Linked DNA regions of Homo sapiens: region 2 is linked to region 1. The links come from fine-mapping of genetic effects on gene expression. Tissue or cell type: whole blood. Region 1 holds a variant in brackets; the other region holds the start of a gene. All regions are shown on one strand. Distances are from middle to middle.

What was found. PIP is the estimated chance that this variant, and not a neighbour inherited with it, causes the effect.
Region 2: it holds the start of AP5Z1, and the variant in region 1 is fine-mapped to the expression of AP5Z1 in whole blood (INTERVAL, PIP 0.95).

The regions. Positions count from the first base shown.
Region 1 is chr7:4,727,912-4,735,911 of GRCh38, forward strand. All of the region lies in intron 1 of FOXK1 (forkhead box K1), which reads left to right. LOC124901581 (a long non-coding RNA gene) reads left to right here. Exons shown (of 2, transcript XR_007060199.1): 2 at 1-2,110. Among named protein-coding and RNA genes, the nearest start is that of AP5Z1, 44 kb to the right of the region's middle. The variant T/G (reference allele first, on the strand shown) is at 4,843.
Region 2 is chr7:4,771,689-4,779,830 of GRCh38, forward strand. AP5Z1 (adaptor related protein complex 5 subunit zeta 1) reads left to right here and starts at 3,935. Exons shown (of 17, transcript NM_014855.3): 1 at 3,935-4,068. The coding sequence starts at 4,028. RefSeq lists enhancers at 2,677-3,353, 3,354-4,030, 3,404-3,453, 3,494-3,583, 4,014-4,083 and 2 more and a silencer at 3,764-3,893.

The DNA.
Region 1 (8,000 bases):
GAGGAAAAGCGGCCGGTAAAATGGAGACAGTCGGTGGCGTGTGTTTGCCGATTGGACTGGCATTGGTATAGACAGATACCAATCACTGCACAGACATTTCCAGGGGCCCTTCCCCAGCCATGTTTAGTGGCACTGACCTCAGGCAGCTGGGCCCCCGGGACAGCAACCAGGGGACTGCCCTGGCCCTGGATGGCAGCCGGGACCGGCTCACAAGCTTCTGTTTGGAGCAGTTCTGTTGGCAGCCCCCCGCCTCCAGTGGAGATGTGACACGACTCTTTCTTGCCTGCCAAACGTTCTCTGATTCTTTGGATCATCGATCCTAACACAGCAAAGGCGGTATTGTTGCTGTCCTTTCAAGGTTAATCCAGGATCAGAAAAGTCTAATCATTTCTCTGTGGTTTTTGGAATTTCCAAAGAGCACCCAGATTTTAACCCTCAGTCCTCGGGGTTGTCCGGCTGCGGCTGTGCTGCTGTTGAGCATTAAGCTCATTCCACTTCACATGTAAACTTGTTTCTATGCATTCACCTCCTGGGAGACTCCACATTCCTGAGAGAACTGCATGGTTATGAACTCTTACTCGTGTGCACTAAAGTGCACGTGCTGTGTGTGTACTGACCCTCTGCCCTGTGGGAGCCACGTGCTGTGGGGAGAACAGACCAGCAGCAGATGGGACTCCTCCTCCAGGAACCTGCTACCAGCTAGGCGTGGTGGTGCAAGCCTATACTTCTGGCACTTTGGGAGGCTGTGGCAGGAGGATCACTTGAGGCCAGGAATTTGAGGCCAGCCTGGGCAACATAGTGAGACCACGTCTCTTTTTGAAAAAAAAAAAAAAAAAAAAAGAAAGAAAAGAAAACGTATTTTTCTTAAGTCGGGCATGAGAGTGAGCCAGGGAATTCAAGGAAGGCTGCCTAGATAGAGAAGGGGACCCTGGGGAACAGTCTTAGAGGACGCAAAGTCTATGCAGATAAACCAGCGTCTGGTACTTGGTATCAGTCAGGTGGCCAGTGAATAATGACTACGTGGAATTACTGTGGACAGCATTTTGAGATCTGCAGATTAAGCCATTTTGACTTCCCAGAAGCATTTTCTTAAATCAGCGTAGAGACAGAAGATGAAAGTTAACCTGAATTGCTCGTCGCAAGCAAGCTCTGCCCGGGTCAGCCCCAGAGGGTTGCAGAACACTGTGTCTGTGTCCGCTGTCTTAAAGAGCCTAGTCCATCTTTACGCGGTCTTTTTACGTCTGTTTAAGCCACACAGCATGGTGGGGAGCGGAGGTGATTTCGGAGCCTACTCTCCGATCCTCAGGATCCTCTTCGGGAGCAGCAGGCAGTGGCTTTCTCCTGGGCCAGGCAGGGTTGTCTGGGGAGTGGAACGTCTGCTAGAAATGCAGATCGCTGGGGCCACCGCCGTTTGGCCGTGTCAGTCATCTGGGGGTCCCTTAGCCTCCGCAGAGTAAAGCTGTGGGAGTCACCACGGGTCCCCATGTTGGGATTGGGAAGCAGTCACCTACCAGATGAGCGTTCCTTCCGCGAAGGGAAGGTGGGGGGATTTTGAAGGAGCTGTGAACACCGAGGGTGCCGTCCTCGCCTGTGCTGCCATGGGGTGCTCAGGACTGCCGGGCCCCGGGAGCCCCACCCGGCAGGACACACACCTGAGCCCCAGGGAGGGTCGGTGGCCATGGCTGTGCTTGGCCGCCTCTGTGGGGCTCTATCCTAATTCAGTGAGGTCTCTCGCCACCTTCCTCCAGGGTCTTCCTGAGACAGAGACCGAGACTTCAGCTTCAAAAAGAAACCCTGGCCGGGTGCAGCAGCTCACGCCTGTAATCCCAGCACTTTGGGAGGCCAAGGCAGGTGGATCACCTGAGCTCAGGAGTTTGAGACCAGCCTGGCCAACATGGTGAAACCCCATCTCTACTAACAATACAAAAACTAGCCAGGCCTGGTAGTGGGTACCAGTAATCCTAGCTACTCGGGAGGCTGAGGCAGGAGAATCGCTTGAACCCGGAAGGTGGAGTTTGCAGTGAGCTGAGATCCAGCCACTGCCCTCCAGCCTGGGCGACAGAGCGAGACTCTGTCGAAACAATTTAAATAAAAAAAAGAAAAGGAAAAAGAAAGCCCGGCTTCGGTCAGACCGTTGTCTGCGTTTTTCACCGCGTGTCACCGACTCAGCATATGGGCTTGAGTATCTCGCTGTCTTTTCTTTTTCCAAATAGGACATGCTTATTTGCCTGATTACAAAAATAGATGCATTCTCCCTATTTAAACAAATTAGGCCCTATGAACGCATAAGAACTTATAAACACTAAAACTGCTACCGGGTTTTAATTCACACACACCACGCACACCCCCACATTGTTGTCACTGCGAGAACGGAGGGCCCAGAGCCGAGTACACTCGGCCAGGGTGAGTGATGGGCAGGCACAGAGCTGTGTCTCTGACCACCCTGCTACCCAGCTTGCCACCGCTGTCAGCCGTGGGGTTCAGGAGAACAGGGTTGTGGCATGGACCCAAAAGTGGAGTCACGGTTGCAGCTCTGGTTCCTGGAGGAGGGACGCAGGCCCAGTGGAGAGGGCGTGGTTTGCAGGCACCAGTGCTGGTTCCGTGTCTGTCGGGGAGGGGATGGACGTTTGTGTTGCTGTCAGGGACCTTGCCGACCCAGCCCCCGCCCCGCCTTCAAGTTTGTGCCTTATTTTCCAAAGCCGCCACACTTGAGACGTCCTTGCTGCGGGTTCGTCTGTAACCTGTGTCCCTTCACTGCCATGCACTGCTCTTAGCTGCTGGCGAAGACGTGGTCTCTGCAATAGAGAGGCGCCTATGGCTGCAGCCACCTGTGTTCGTTTTGGGGTTGTCATAAATAAATGCCTTCCATTTTTAATAGAAAGACAGTATTTTAGGTTAAAAAATTTAAGGTTGTCAGAATTCTCTGATTTGGGGATTTTATATGTTAACGTTTCTTTCAAAACCATTTCCTGAGGATGGGCGCGGTGGCTCACTCCTGCAATCCCAGCACTTTGGGAGGCCGAGGCAGGAGGATCCCTTGAGGCCAGGAGTTGGAGACTAGCCTGGGCAACATAACAAGACCCTGTCTCTACAAAAAATCAAAACCATTTGCTGAACAGTCTTATTTCTCGGAGGAGTTTAAGCAAACACTGCAGGGCCTCCGGCATTCCAGTTTCAGGCCTTATCTGATGTGGCCCACCCTGGGACCGTCACCTGACTTCCTGTCCCTGCACAGAGAACTTGCTGGTAGGAGGTGGTGAGGGGCCTCCGAGGTGGTGGGTGAGCATCCCTGCAAGTCAAGCTCTGCTGTTCCCCGGCCTTCCCTTGAGACTCTTGGGGGCCTGGGCCCTGCGGGACGTTTTCCCCCTGCCTCAGAGCCAAACCACTTAACAGAACCAGGCGAGCCAGGTTTAGTACTTTATCGGGTATCCTAAAGACACGTTGCAGCCTGCAAAATTCGAAAAGTACCTGGAGTATGTAACAGCTTTTGCCTCCCATTCTTGAGTCTTTCATTTCTTCAAGGACATGGTAGCAACATTTAAAGAACCTTTTGAAAAGAGAGAGGCGGCCGGGCACAGTGGCTCACGCCTGTAATCCCAGCACTTTGGGAGGCCAAAGCGGGTGCATCACCTGAGGTCAGGAGTTCAAGACCAGCCTGGCCAACATGGTGAAACCCCATCTCTACTAAAAATACAAAAATTAGCCGGGCATGGTGGTGGGCACCTGTAATCCCAGCTACTCGGGAGGCTGAGGCAGGAGAATCGCTTGGACCTGGAGGCGGAGGTTGCAGTGAGCTGAGATTGCACCACTGCACTCCAGCCTGGGCAACAAAGCGAAACTCTGCCTCAAAAAAAAAAAAAAAAAAAGAAAACAGAGAGGCCTGCTTATAACACCATCCTTATCCTGGGCTGTTTTCCTTTGTCCTTCCAGTCCTTGTCTAATAACAAGAATAACTGAAGCACATTTTCAGTAACCGCTTGCTACGTGCCAGCCGTCCGGTCAGGACTGATGTTCACGGCATGGAGACCTGAGGCCACACGGAGGCCGGGCTGGCCAGGGCGGGGCTCAGATTCAGTGACTTGCCCAGGTGCCCCCAGGGCATCTGAGCAGCCCAGGCTCCAGCCAGGCAGGTCTGACTTCACCTCCCTTGCCGTGAGCCGCTGCACTGTTCCACTTGGGCTTCTGCTACATTTATCAAGCTGTTGTAAACGTTTCCATATTCCCCCACGCCTCAGTATTTAGCGAGGGCTCCTTATGTGTGACACGCCCTGTGTGCGTCTGATGACGTTGCTTGGAATCATTTGTTCAGTCCACAAGAACTCTGATTATGCACCATCATTACCCCAGTTTGGCTGATGAGGGAAACCAGGCCAGTGTATGAAGAGACTGACCAAAGATCCCAGTGCCGACAGTTCTCCATTCATTCATTCATTCATTCAGTCACCATCATAGCCCACTGCGGCCTCCGCTGCCCAGGCTCAAGCCATCTTCCCTCCTCAGCCTCCCAAGTAGTTGGGACTACAGGTGTGCGCCACCACACCTGGCTAATTTCTTAAACAATTTTTAGAGACAGGATCTCACTGTGTTGCCCAGGCTGATCTCGAACTCCTAGGGTCAAGCGATCGTCCCACCTCAGCCTTCCAAAGCGCTGGGATTACAGGCGTGAACCACCGTGGGATTACGGGCATGAGCCACCGCGCCAGCCAATATGCATAGTTTTAAATGGCCATAGTAACGCAAGGCTTCAAACAGAAGTCCTCAGGTCTCACTTCGCAGAGGCAGTGGCTTTTAAAGCATCCTGATTAACAGTCTGAGCTGCTATTCACTGAGTTTTCGCCCTGT[T/G]GTAGACACACATGGCTTTCCGTTAGAGAAGACAGGGTCTGGCTCTACTGCTGCCCTCCTCATCCGGAGCCGCGGGTCTGCGCTGCACGCCCCTTACACGTGTGCCTCTTTCCCATAGCGCAGAGTTTATCTTCTTACTCGTCCAGCGTTCTCTGTACCTATTGTGAATTGATCTCTGGACGCTGACCCAACTCTAGAACTTCGCTCAGCAGTTGGGTAAGACGACATTCCTGTCCTTCAGTTCTCCTGGGAACTTTCTCCTGAGAGCCCTGGCTCTCTCCTGCACAGCTCTGGGCTCCTGCACAGCTTCTGTTCTGGGGCTTTTCACCCTCTTCCTGGATTCTTTCAGTTAGGACGTAGTTTTGATTTTGCAACAAAGGTCAAAAATAACGAGGGCCAAGTTTGTTTCTTTTATACGTGACGGTCTTTTTTTTTTTAATTTTATTATTTTTTTATTTCAAGCTGGGTTCTTGCTGTGTTGCCCAGGCTGGTTTCAAACTCCTGGGCTCAAGCAATCCTCCAACCTCATCCTCCCAGAGTGCTGGGATTATAGATGTAAGCCACCCTACCCAGCCACACATGACCATCTTAATGTCAGCTATGACCTGGAGGCACCAGACTTTTTCTATTACGTTGCTTGTTGCTCCGTTATGCAGTGTGCCTTTATGGTCCACTGTGGCTGCTCGGCTCCTGCCATCACAGCAGTATCTGGCTGTTGGGAAGGGGAGGAGTGAAGAAGGCCCTTGGTTCCTCATATAGACATGACCCATTTGTATCCCATTGACCAGCTCATAGTCTCATGGTTGCAAGAGGGGCAGAGAAACATGGTCTTCAGTTGGGTGGACGTTTCTCTGTCTCCATGTTTGCTATAGAAGCAGGAGAGAAGGTGCTCTGGGAACTACAGCCTCAGCCACAGTCCAGGAAGCTGCCCAGTGCCCACATGGGAACTGCATCCTGCAGGTATCGCTCGTGAAAACCGGCCTGGCGTCTTCTGGCCCTTGCTCTTGGGTCTGCTGTTTCTCTCACGGGAGAGGCTGCTCTGAGGTCCCCGAAGCTGCAGGCTGGGTGGGACGGTGGGAGCCTTTCCCTGGTCTTTAGTCCGGCTGACATCCTCTCTCTGGCCGTCATAGCCAGCGCCATGGGATTGGGGAAGCCACAGGGACCTCCCAGCACGCGCCAACCCTGGACTTCCCCCAGAGCTCATCTGGGTGGCAGGTGCTGGCCACGTGGAGTCTGCCCTCCACGTGCCGTGGGTGAAGCTTCACCTGGCGCAGGGAAGGCCATCAGACTTCCAGCTCGTCACCCATGTCCTCAACCCCTAACCACTGAAGCGATGCCTGTGTTTTAACCTTAGTAACCGTGCCGCCCAGCTCCTAGAAGACACGCGACTCCACAGCAGTTAGGAGACAGCAGATGCATTCCCAGAGCTCCTGAGAAGGAGCGGCTTGTGTGGGGTGACTCTATCTCAAGCCGTAGGCCTCCCAGACAGAGCCTCTGAAGCTCCTGTTTTCTTTGTCCTTCCTGAGACAGATCTCATCCAGCCTCTTCCTTTTGATGTTTTCTGAGTCACTTTAAACTGTGCAAGATTTCCCGTTTCCCCTGGCTGTGGCTCTTGTGGTCCTGGCCTTGGTGGGCAGGTGCAGGGCCCGCTCCCTCCTTGGGAGGATGAGATGCTCTGTGGCTTCCACCACTCCCCAGATCGTCTGCTTCCTCCTTGCCCCTCAAACTCCTTTGCCTCAGTCCCTGTCTTCCTTGATGGGGGCATTCCCCAAGTGTCTGTTCTTGTGGAAGGGGAGGTGCCCCCCGGCCCACCCCCCCGCTGCCCAAGTGTGCGTGGGCATCGGTGCACGGGGCTCCCTCCCTGGGGCTTCATGGGGGGCTCAGGAAGGCTGGGTCTCAGGCTTTTCTCCTGCGCCATTGTCTGCTGATAGCTGGGCTCAGCTCTGGAAGCTTGGGGGGCTGAGAGCCTCTGGTCCTCCTGCAGAATTTCAGGTCGCAAGGCTATTTTTGGCGTGAGATGTCACTGTCTGCCGCTTCTGTGTTGGGTGCCCTCGTCCAGGCCTCGGGTTCACCCCATCCAGAAAGTAAACCCGTCCTTCCGCTGGGAGAGACGGGGCGAGGGGACAGCGGTGGACAGGAGCGATCTGTCACATTCATTTTAAAAATCGCCTCCGGAAGCTTTCACGGGCTCTTCCTTCCCTCTCTGATTATTTCTCTGAGTCTGAAATGATGACAATTGTATTTATATTTATGTCATCGAGAATTAAGTGAGCTATTTTTATTTTCCTGACAGCTTTCTGTTTGGCCGGGCAGGTGGTAGGATTTGTGGCCTAGGGAGGGGATGGGAATGAAGGCACATGACATGCCCCAAGTCACTCGGGCTCAGCACTGGTGGAGCGGTGGCCAGTTCCAGCTCGCTGTGTAGAGACGGCTCTGTGGTCTGAGGCTGAGCCAGGCAGTGTCATCTCCAACCAAGTCACCAGTTTGGCCCAACTTCCAGGAGCCATCAGCTTCTGGGTGGACCTGGGAAAAACCCAGGGCTGGAGTAGACCCTCAGTGTGGGAGCTTTTGGGCAAGAATTCTCCCCAAAAACAGCTTGCCTGAGATCGACTGCACATACCTTACAACTAACCCTTTCCATTGTTCCAGTCCGTGGTTTTCAGCGCATTCGCAGAGTTGCGCGGCCACCAAGTCAACTTCGGAACATTTTCCTGACTCTAGAAAGAACCCCCTAGCTCTTAGTCATTCTCCGTCCCCCCTGCCTGTCCCACCCGTCACTCCAGCCCTAGGCAACCACTAAGCTCCTTTCTAAGTCGGGCAAGAATGTTCTGGAGAGATGTCCTCCACAGATGGGCACTTGCTCGTACAGGAACCTTTCCGCCGGGCTGGTGGACGGAGATTTCTACTCTGTGGACACACTTAACCTTAGCGGAATCTCCGCCGGTCAAGACCGGCAGTGTGTGTGGCTGGGTTTAAACCACCGTGCAGCACCTTCACGATGCAAAACGTGCTCGTTCAGACTCCAGCTAGAGCCCTGCACCTCCATCAAGATATTACAGGGAGAGATGTAACTGGCAAACTCCCTGAGCATGCTGGGGAAACATCTATTTAAAAATCAAGCCAGGTGCAGCGGCTCACACCTGTAATCCCAGCACTTT
Region 2 (8,142 bases), 44 kb after region 1:
CCCGGCCCCCTGGACACACAGGCCCCTGACCCCCTGGACACACAGGCCCCTGACCCCCTGGACACACAGACCCCTGACCCCTGGACACACAGACCCCTGAGCCCCTGGACATACAGGCTCCCGGCCCCCTAGACACACAGGCTCCCGACCCCCTGGACACACAGACCCCTGACCCCTGGACACACAGACCCCTGAGCCCCTGGACATACAGGCTCCCGGCCCCCTGGACACACAGGCACTGCGCCCCCCTGCTCCAGAGGCTGAAGGGCGGCTGCTGATAAGGGAAGTCGCCCATAGGTCCCTGGTGTCCCGTTCCTGGCTCACACAGGAGATGCTTCTGCAGGTGCCTGTGGCTCCTGGAGTCAGTGACCCCCACCCACTGAGAGTGCTCTAAGCGAGGATGTTTGCAGCTCCAGGAATGTGAAGACAACGTGTGTCTCCCCTCAGACATGGCAAAGGCAGAAACCAGCTGAGCCAACCCCCTGCCCCTGGCACACGCCCACATCCTGGCTGGGGGGCACTTGCAGGTACTCGTTGCTGCCCCAGTGGCTCCTGGGCAACTGTGGGTCCTTCCTGCTGGCCCTTGGCTAGATGAGAATTTCTACCCATGTCCAAGATGGGTAGAAATGTACGTGGGTAGAAATTCTCTCAGGCCTTACTTATTGTAGGTGTGGGGCCTGGGGGGTGGGGATGGCATTGACTTTGGAACTACACAGACCTGGGTTCAAGTTCCTACTGTGTCCTTACCAGCTGTGGGACTTCAGCTTGCAATGCGCCCCACTTCTTCACATGCAGCACAGGCACCCCCACCCCACAGGCCTGGCGCCCCGAAGCTCAGCTGCGATGCCATCAGTCACTGTCTCTTCTGAGAGTCCCCCAGACTTATGAGACCCTTGGGTGTGTCTGTGTGACTGCCTCCGACAGACTTGACAGTGGTGCATGCTTGTCACATGTCTCTCTTCTGTCAAGGTTCTGTAGTGTTTGCATGTGACTCCCTCAGTTCAATAACTTGCATTTTTCCGATGGCACAGTTACCCACCATTGCAGGTAAGGTTTCACTGCTTCTCTGTCTTCCTTCAAGTTACTCCATTTCCATTGTAAGAGGTTAACATAACTTTAACAGATTAGTTCTAGTTTAAGATGTCAGCCCAGGCTGGGCGCGGTGGCTCACGCCTGTAATCCCAGCACTTTGGGAGGCCAAGGCGGGTGGATCATTTGAGGTCAGCAGTTCAAGACCAGCCTGGACAACATGGTAAAACCCCGTCTCTACTAAAAAAAATACAAAAAATTAACTAGGCATGGTGGCTTGCACCTGTAATCCCAGTTACCTGGGAGGCTGAGGCAGGAGAACTGCTTGAACCCAGGAGGTGGACGTTGCAGTGAGCTGAGATCACGCCACTGCACTCCAGCCTGGGGGACACAGCAAGACTCAGTCTCAAAAAAAAAAAAAAAGAAAAAAAAGAAAAACATTTTAGCCCAATAGCAAACATGAGTGAGAAGCGTATGTAGGCTTCCTCCAGGGATCTGCGTTGGCTAATTATTAATTGCATCTTTCCTTTTTAAGATGTTGTCTTTGTGTTTGTTTGTTTGCTTGCTTGTTTAGAGACAGGGTCTTGCCATGTTGCCCAGGCTGGTCTTGAACTGGGCTCAAGCGATCCTCCTGCCTCGACCTCCCAGTGTTTGGATTACAGGTGTGAGCCACCGTGCCTGGCCTTTTTTGCTTTTGATTAGCACAACCATTTTTCACTAGTGAGACCTTAAAATAATATTTTACACTAATGTAAATATTTTGTAAGAAACAAGTCAAATATTACCCCTGGTAAAATTGCTTAAGGTCGTGTCTGTGTGAAGAGAGAGAGGGAGAGAGAGATTGAGATTCCTGGCACACAGTTGGAATCTCAGTTAAAGTTAGCTTCCCTGTGAACCTGGTATCTATACAACAAAGAGGGGTGCATCTCTCAGAACCCCAGAAGACATACAATTGTGCACTGCAGCTCTATTCGTTATTGTCAAAATCTGGAAACCGACCAAATATTCATGGACGAACAAGAAAAGCTAAGTACGGTACGATTCCATTTGCATGAAGTATAAAAAGACGCAAAACTAATCTCTGGTGATAAGAGAGACTAGCAGTTACTTGTGGGGGAAGGGAGTGGGCGTTGACTGGGAGGGGGCCACAGCGGGGAACCTCTGGGGAGCTGGAAATGGTCTAGGTCTTGAACTCAAACCATGGCAGGAACATTTACACCACAGAAATTATCAAACACAAATCAACCCCCGGCTCCCCACCGTCGCCAATGGAGCCGAGGCTTAAGACATTTGCAAATTTACCACCGATTTCTAGAAATGTAAATAGTGGAGTTCATTTAAGATTTGTGCGCTTTGGTGTGGACGTTTTACCCTAGTAAACGTTAAACACTGGCAGTAGGCTTTCCATAGACTACCTGTCACCAGCTTTCCTTTGCCAGTCTTCAACCTGCGGCTCCAGGGGCACCCGCCGCACTCCACCGACTCCCATCCACCGCTCACCATCCACCGATTCCCATCTCTTCATTCTCTGCACCAGGTGCCCTCAGACATCACTGGGCGCCCTAGGGCATCTCAAAGCCATGTTTGGAACTCCTGCAGGAAGCCCTCCCTCCTCCTCCTCCTTCCTTCCATCCAGGGGTCTTCTCGGGGCTTATCCCTTCAAGGCCTAACCTTGACCCACCCTATCTACGCAACATTGATTCCCACCCCTACCCTATTCCCCAGAACCTTCAGCAGTGCCTAGCGCAGCTAGGACTCAATCATCGCTTGTCCACTTAATGAATGACTCTTGGCACAAATTTCCTCGTCCTTTTCTGCCCCAGACAGACACCCCACAAACATGAAGTTACCCTTGATTTTTCCACTTTCTTCCTCCTGCCTGCAAATTCCTCAATCACAGGTGGTGCAAATCCTACCTCTAAATGGTACTGAATCTGCCTACTTTCGGGGCAACCTCCCTTACCTGGACCACAACTGCACCAGCCTCCTTTCTCCCTCAGGAGCTTCCCAATCCATTATCTCCCCTGCGGCCAGAGATCAGTTTCCTCCTGGGGTGCATTTAAGCCATAGGAAGCAGATCGCTACCCTAGGCCCGTCCCTCCCCACCCCTTGGTCTGGACACCCTCTGGGCTCATCTTAGGCCGCAGTCGCCGAAGCCTTCCTCCTCCGGTTGGACCCCCAACCAGGTCAGGCTGTCATAGCGTTTATCATGACGCTGGCGTGTCGCCCTGTGTCCCTCGGCCGTCTGCAGGATGGCAAACTTATGGCCAGGGCCCAGCACATTTGGGCACCCAACACATCCGTTAGAATGAACAGAAACTTCCCCTCTCCGAGCCTGTGGCCTCATCTGTAAAACAGAGATCGCGAGATCCCATGAATACCGTGGGGATTGAATAAGGGATTTTTTCGTTTCAAGCAGCAGGAACAGCGCGGGATGGGTGCTCAATAAATGGGAGCTCAAAAAATCCCCAAAACTGCCCAGAGCCGCGGCTATTCCTTGCAAACTGCTGGACACTGCTGGGCTCAGCCCACAAGTGTCGGAGTTTGCATCAGATTTTCAGGTCGTACTTAGCAAAGGGACTCCCGCACGACAAAGCTGTTTACGAAACAGAAACCAGAACTGGGGCAGTGACACTTTGGGGCCAGCAATGCCCTCTCCCAAAGCCCCAGGCGCCCAATTTCCGCCGAAATGCTTTCCGGGGTCGAAGGGCGCCGGGGCTCCAGAGTGCCGAGGTTCCGGGGTCGCGCGATTCCGCAGCTCCCAGGCGCCGACCCGGACCCCCGGCCGCGGCACCTACGCCCCGCCCCAGTCGCTCCACGCCAAAGCCCATTGGTCGGCAACCTGTCCCTCCTGCTCATGTGATGCGGCACGTGACGCAGCCACGTAAGGCCGCTGCGCTCACGTGACGCGGTCCCGGAAGTTGACCGGGGTGCGGAGCTCCTGGGCTGCAGCTCCTGGAGTTTCCGAGGTTCGTGCGCGTCTGGTGGCGGCGGCGTGATGTTCTCGGCAGGAGCGGAGAGTTTGCTCCACCAGGCCAGGTACGGGGGAGCTGCGGCCCCGGCCCTCCTTCCTGCATCTCTCCCTAGGGGCACACGGGGGTGGGTCTCACAGGGCAGGGGCTTGGGCGCCAGCCTTGCAGGAACCCGACTGGACTCGCCCTCGAGACTTGGGGATCGGGTAAGGCAACACGGCGGCCAGGCTTGGGGTGAGGAGGTCGGGGAGGGTCATGGTGGGTCCCCGGAGGAGGTGACACTTGAGCAGAGTCTTGGTGAGTGAAAGCAAGTGGGGTGGGACCCAGTCGACAGTTTAGTCAAAGGCTTGGCGGTGAGAACTCCGCGTCTGGCAGGAAATCGGGCAGCCGGGAGATTTCAGTGCCTCACAGTCAAGAACGCAAAGTCACAGTGTCCGGAGGCCTGCTAAGGAATAAGGCTGTGTGCCAGGCTGGGGAGCTGGAGGCCATCCGAGGGCTTTGCGGAACCGTGGGAGGGTTTTGTGACTTAAAAAGATCTCTCTTGCGCGGATGTATTAGCTAGGCTGAGAAATCACCCTCCAGGCTGGTTTCAGGCTGTGTCTGGACTCCCAGTAACGAGTGAGTAGCTCCTTCCTCACCAACTAACCAGTCATGGGGGAAAACAGTGTAAGCCAGGACTGAACAGACTCACGGTCCACCAAACAGGCAAAGACTTCATACTACATGTTTAAAAGAAGAAAATGCTGACCGGGCGTGGTGGCTCACGCCTGTAATCCCACCACTTTGGGAGGCCAAGGCAGGCGGATCACCTGAGGTCAGGAGTTCGAGACCAGCGTGCCCAACATGAGGAAACCACGTCTCTACTGAAAATACAAAAAAAAAAAAAAAAAAAAAAATTAGCCGGGCGTGGTGGTGGGTGACTGTAATCCCAGCTACTCGGGAGGCTGAGGCAGGAGGATTGCTTGAACCTGTGAGGTGGAGGTTACAGTGAGCTGAGATGGCGCCACTGCACTCCAGGCTGGGGGACAGAGCGAAACTCCGTCTCAAAAGAAAAAAGAAAAAAAGTAAAGAAAATACAGCCAGCACTACAGCCCCTTGGTAAACGTAAACAAACTTGGTGAGGTGAGAGGCCGAAGCAGGAGAAGTGCATGAACCCAGGAGGCCGAGGGTGCAGTGAGCCAAGATCGCACCACTGGACTCCAGTCTGGGTGACAGAACGAGACTCCATGTCAAAACAAACAAGCAAACCTGGACTCAGAGCTAGACCAATTGGTGGGAAAGATTCGGGTGGTTGAAATTGCTGTGATTATAGTGAGTGAGGTCTTGAAGGCAGGTTAAGTTCTAAAGCCCGAACAGGACAAAAATCTCTGATCAAAATAACCCTTAAGAGTCCACTCATTAGGAAGAGGCTTGGTGAATATGCAGCACCATCTCCCAGCAGCTCAACATAGGCAACCTTCCCTTCAATCCTGGACAGATATGTCATTCATGTGAATGTGGGGACTATATGAAAATGAAAAATACTGGCATCTCAGCATGTAACATGTTAATCCCAAGGTCCTTGCCAAGAGACAAGGAAAAACACCCACTGAGAACTTCATTCCCAGTCACATTCTGCTCAAGGTCATAAACTTGTGACATGAAAAACAAAAGGAAGAGCCCTCTTTATTTATTTATTTATTTATTTATTTATTTATTTTTATTAGAGTCTCTTTTGAGACAGAGTCTCCCTCTGTCGCCCAGGCTGGAGTACAATGGCGCAATCTCAGTTCACTGCAACCTCCGCCTCCTGGGTTCAAGCAATTCTCCTGCCTCAGCCTCCCAAGTAGCTGGGATTACAGGCGCCCGCCACCACACCCGGCTGATTTTTTGTATCTTTAGTAGAGATGGGATTTCACCACATTGTCCAGGCTGGTCTCGAATTCCTGACCTCAGGTGATCCGCCTGACTCGGCCCCTCGAAGTGCCGGGATTACAGGTGTGAGCCACCATACCCGGCTGAGCCCTCACTATTTAAATACCTGTTTCTCTGCCTCCCTGGCTCGGGTGGGCAGCCGTTTTTGAGGATAGAGTGTGGTTGAATTTCCCTATGTAACATACATGAGTTCTGCAGTTGCCCTCTGTTAGGGTTTCAAGAAGGTTAATCTATTAGGGCTTACCAGTTTTCACAATATTCTTAAGCCTGTGATTTCTGATGATATTTTAAAATAAATGACTGTAGTTTGAGGGTTAAGGTTTGGAGCCGGCCAGGCGCAGTGACTGGCCCACGCCTGTAATCCGAACACTTCGGGAGGCCGAGTTAGGAGGATCGCTTGAGGCTAGGACTTTGAGACCAGCCTGGACAACATAGCGAGACCCGTCTCTACAAAACAGAATTTTTAAAAAACTTAGCCAGGTGTGGTGGCACGTACCCATAGTCACAGCTACTCAGGAGGCTGAGGCAGGAGGATCACTTGAGCCAAGGAGGTTGAGGCTGCGGTAAGCTATGATGGTGCCACTGCACTCCAGCTCGGGTGACAGAGGGAGACCCTGTCTCCAAAGAAAGCCAAAAAGATTTGGAGTGAACTTTAGTTTCTCTCTAAATGTGTCAGAGATACGGAAAGCAAGGGTGCAAAAAGTGATCAAAGATAGCGCTGCAAGCTGAAGGATAAATGGAGAGAGCGGGAAGCGAGTAAAGGATGGGGGCATGGAGGGGTGCCCCGCAAGGTCGGGGATTTCCAGGAGGAAGAGCCTCAGCCCACTAGCTCGGGAGCTAGTGGGGCATGTATCAGGCACAGGGTCTGTGCGAAGGGACAGAAGCAAAAGAAACAGGACATGGAGTCTGGAGAAGGAAGGCGGGGCCGGGCTCTTGGAGGCAGCGTTGGGGTCTGTAGGAGTTTGGATTTGAAAGCAGTGGGGAGCTGTTGAAGGGTTTGGGTGGGTTGGATTTTAGAGAGAAGCTTGAGACTTGGAGAATATGCTGAAGGGAATTTAATCGGGATGAGGGGTTCCACCTTTCTGGGAAAGATTTTCCATTGTGTGTATATATGTATATGTGTGTATATATAATTTATATATAACATTTTATATATTATATATTACATATATATTTAGTAATATATAATATAATTATATGTTATATATTATATGTTATATTATATATCATTATATATAATATATAATGATATATAATATTTTATATATAATCAAAAAAAGAATAAAAAAAATTCACTGGGCTTAGTGTAGTCCCAGCTACTTGAAAGGCTGAGGTGGGAGAACTGCTTGAGCTAGAAGATCAGGCTGCAGTGAGCTGAGATTATGCCACTGCACTCCAGCCTGGGTGACAGCATAAGACTCTATCTCAAAAAATATATATATAGATAGATAGATAGATATAAAAATATATTTTTATATGTAATATATATAAAATATATATTATATACATTTTTGAGATAGAGCATATTATATATTATATATAACATATATAACAACTATATAACATATATAACATAACATATATAACAACATAATATATAGCATATATTATGTATAACATATATTAGATATAACATATATAACATTAGAAATAATGTATATAACATAACATAACGTATATAACGCATATAACAACATATATAACGTATATAACATAACACGTTATATATGATATATAACATATAACATGTTATATATCATAACGTGTTATATGTCATATAACATGATTATTATATATCATATATAACATGATAACATATATATCATATATAACATATATAACATTATATATAACATATATATTATATTATATATATATATTTTTTTTTGAAGTAGAGTCTTACTCTGTCACCCAGGCTGGAGTGCAGTGGCACAATCTCAGCTCACTGCAGCCTGATCTTCCAGCTCAAGCAGTTCTCCCACCTCAGCCTTTCAAGTGGCTGGGACTACACCATGCCCAGTGAATTTTTTTTATTTTTATTTTTTTTTGTTTTTGAGACGGAGTTTTGCTCTCGTTGCCCAAGCTGGGGTGCAATGGCATGATCTCAGCTCACTGCAACCTCCTCCTCCCGGGTTCAAGTGATTCTCCTGCCTCAGCCTCCTGAGTAGCTGGGATTACAGGCTTGTGCCACCACGCCCAGCTATTTTTTTTTGTATTTTTAGTAGAA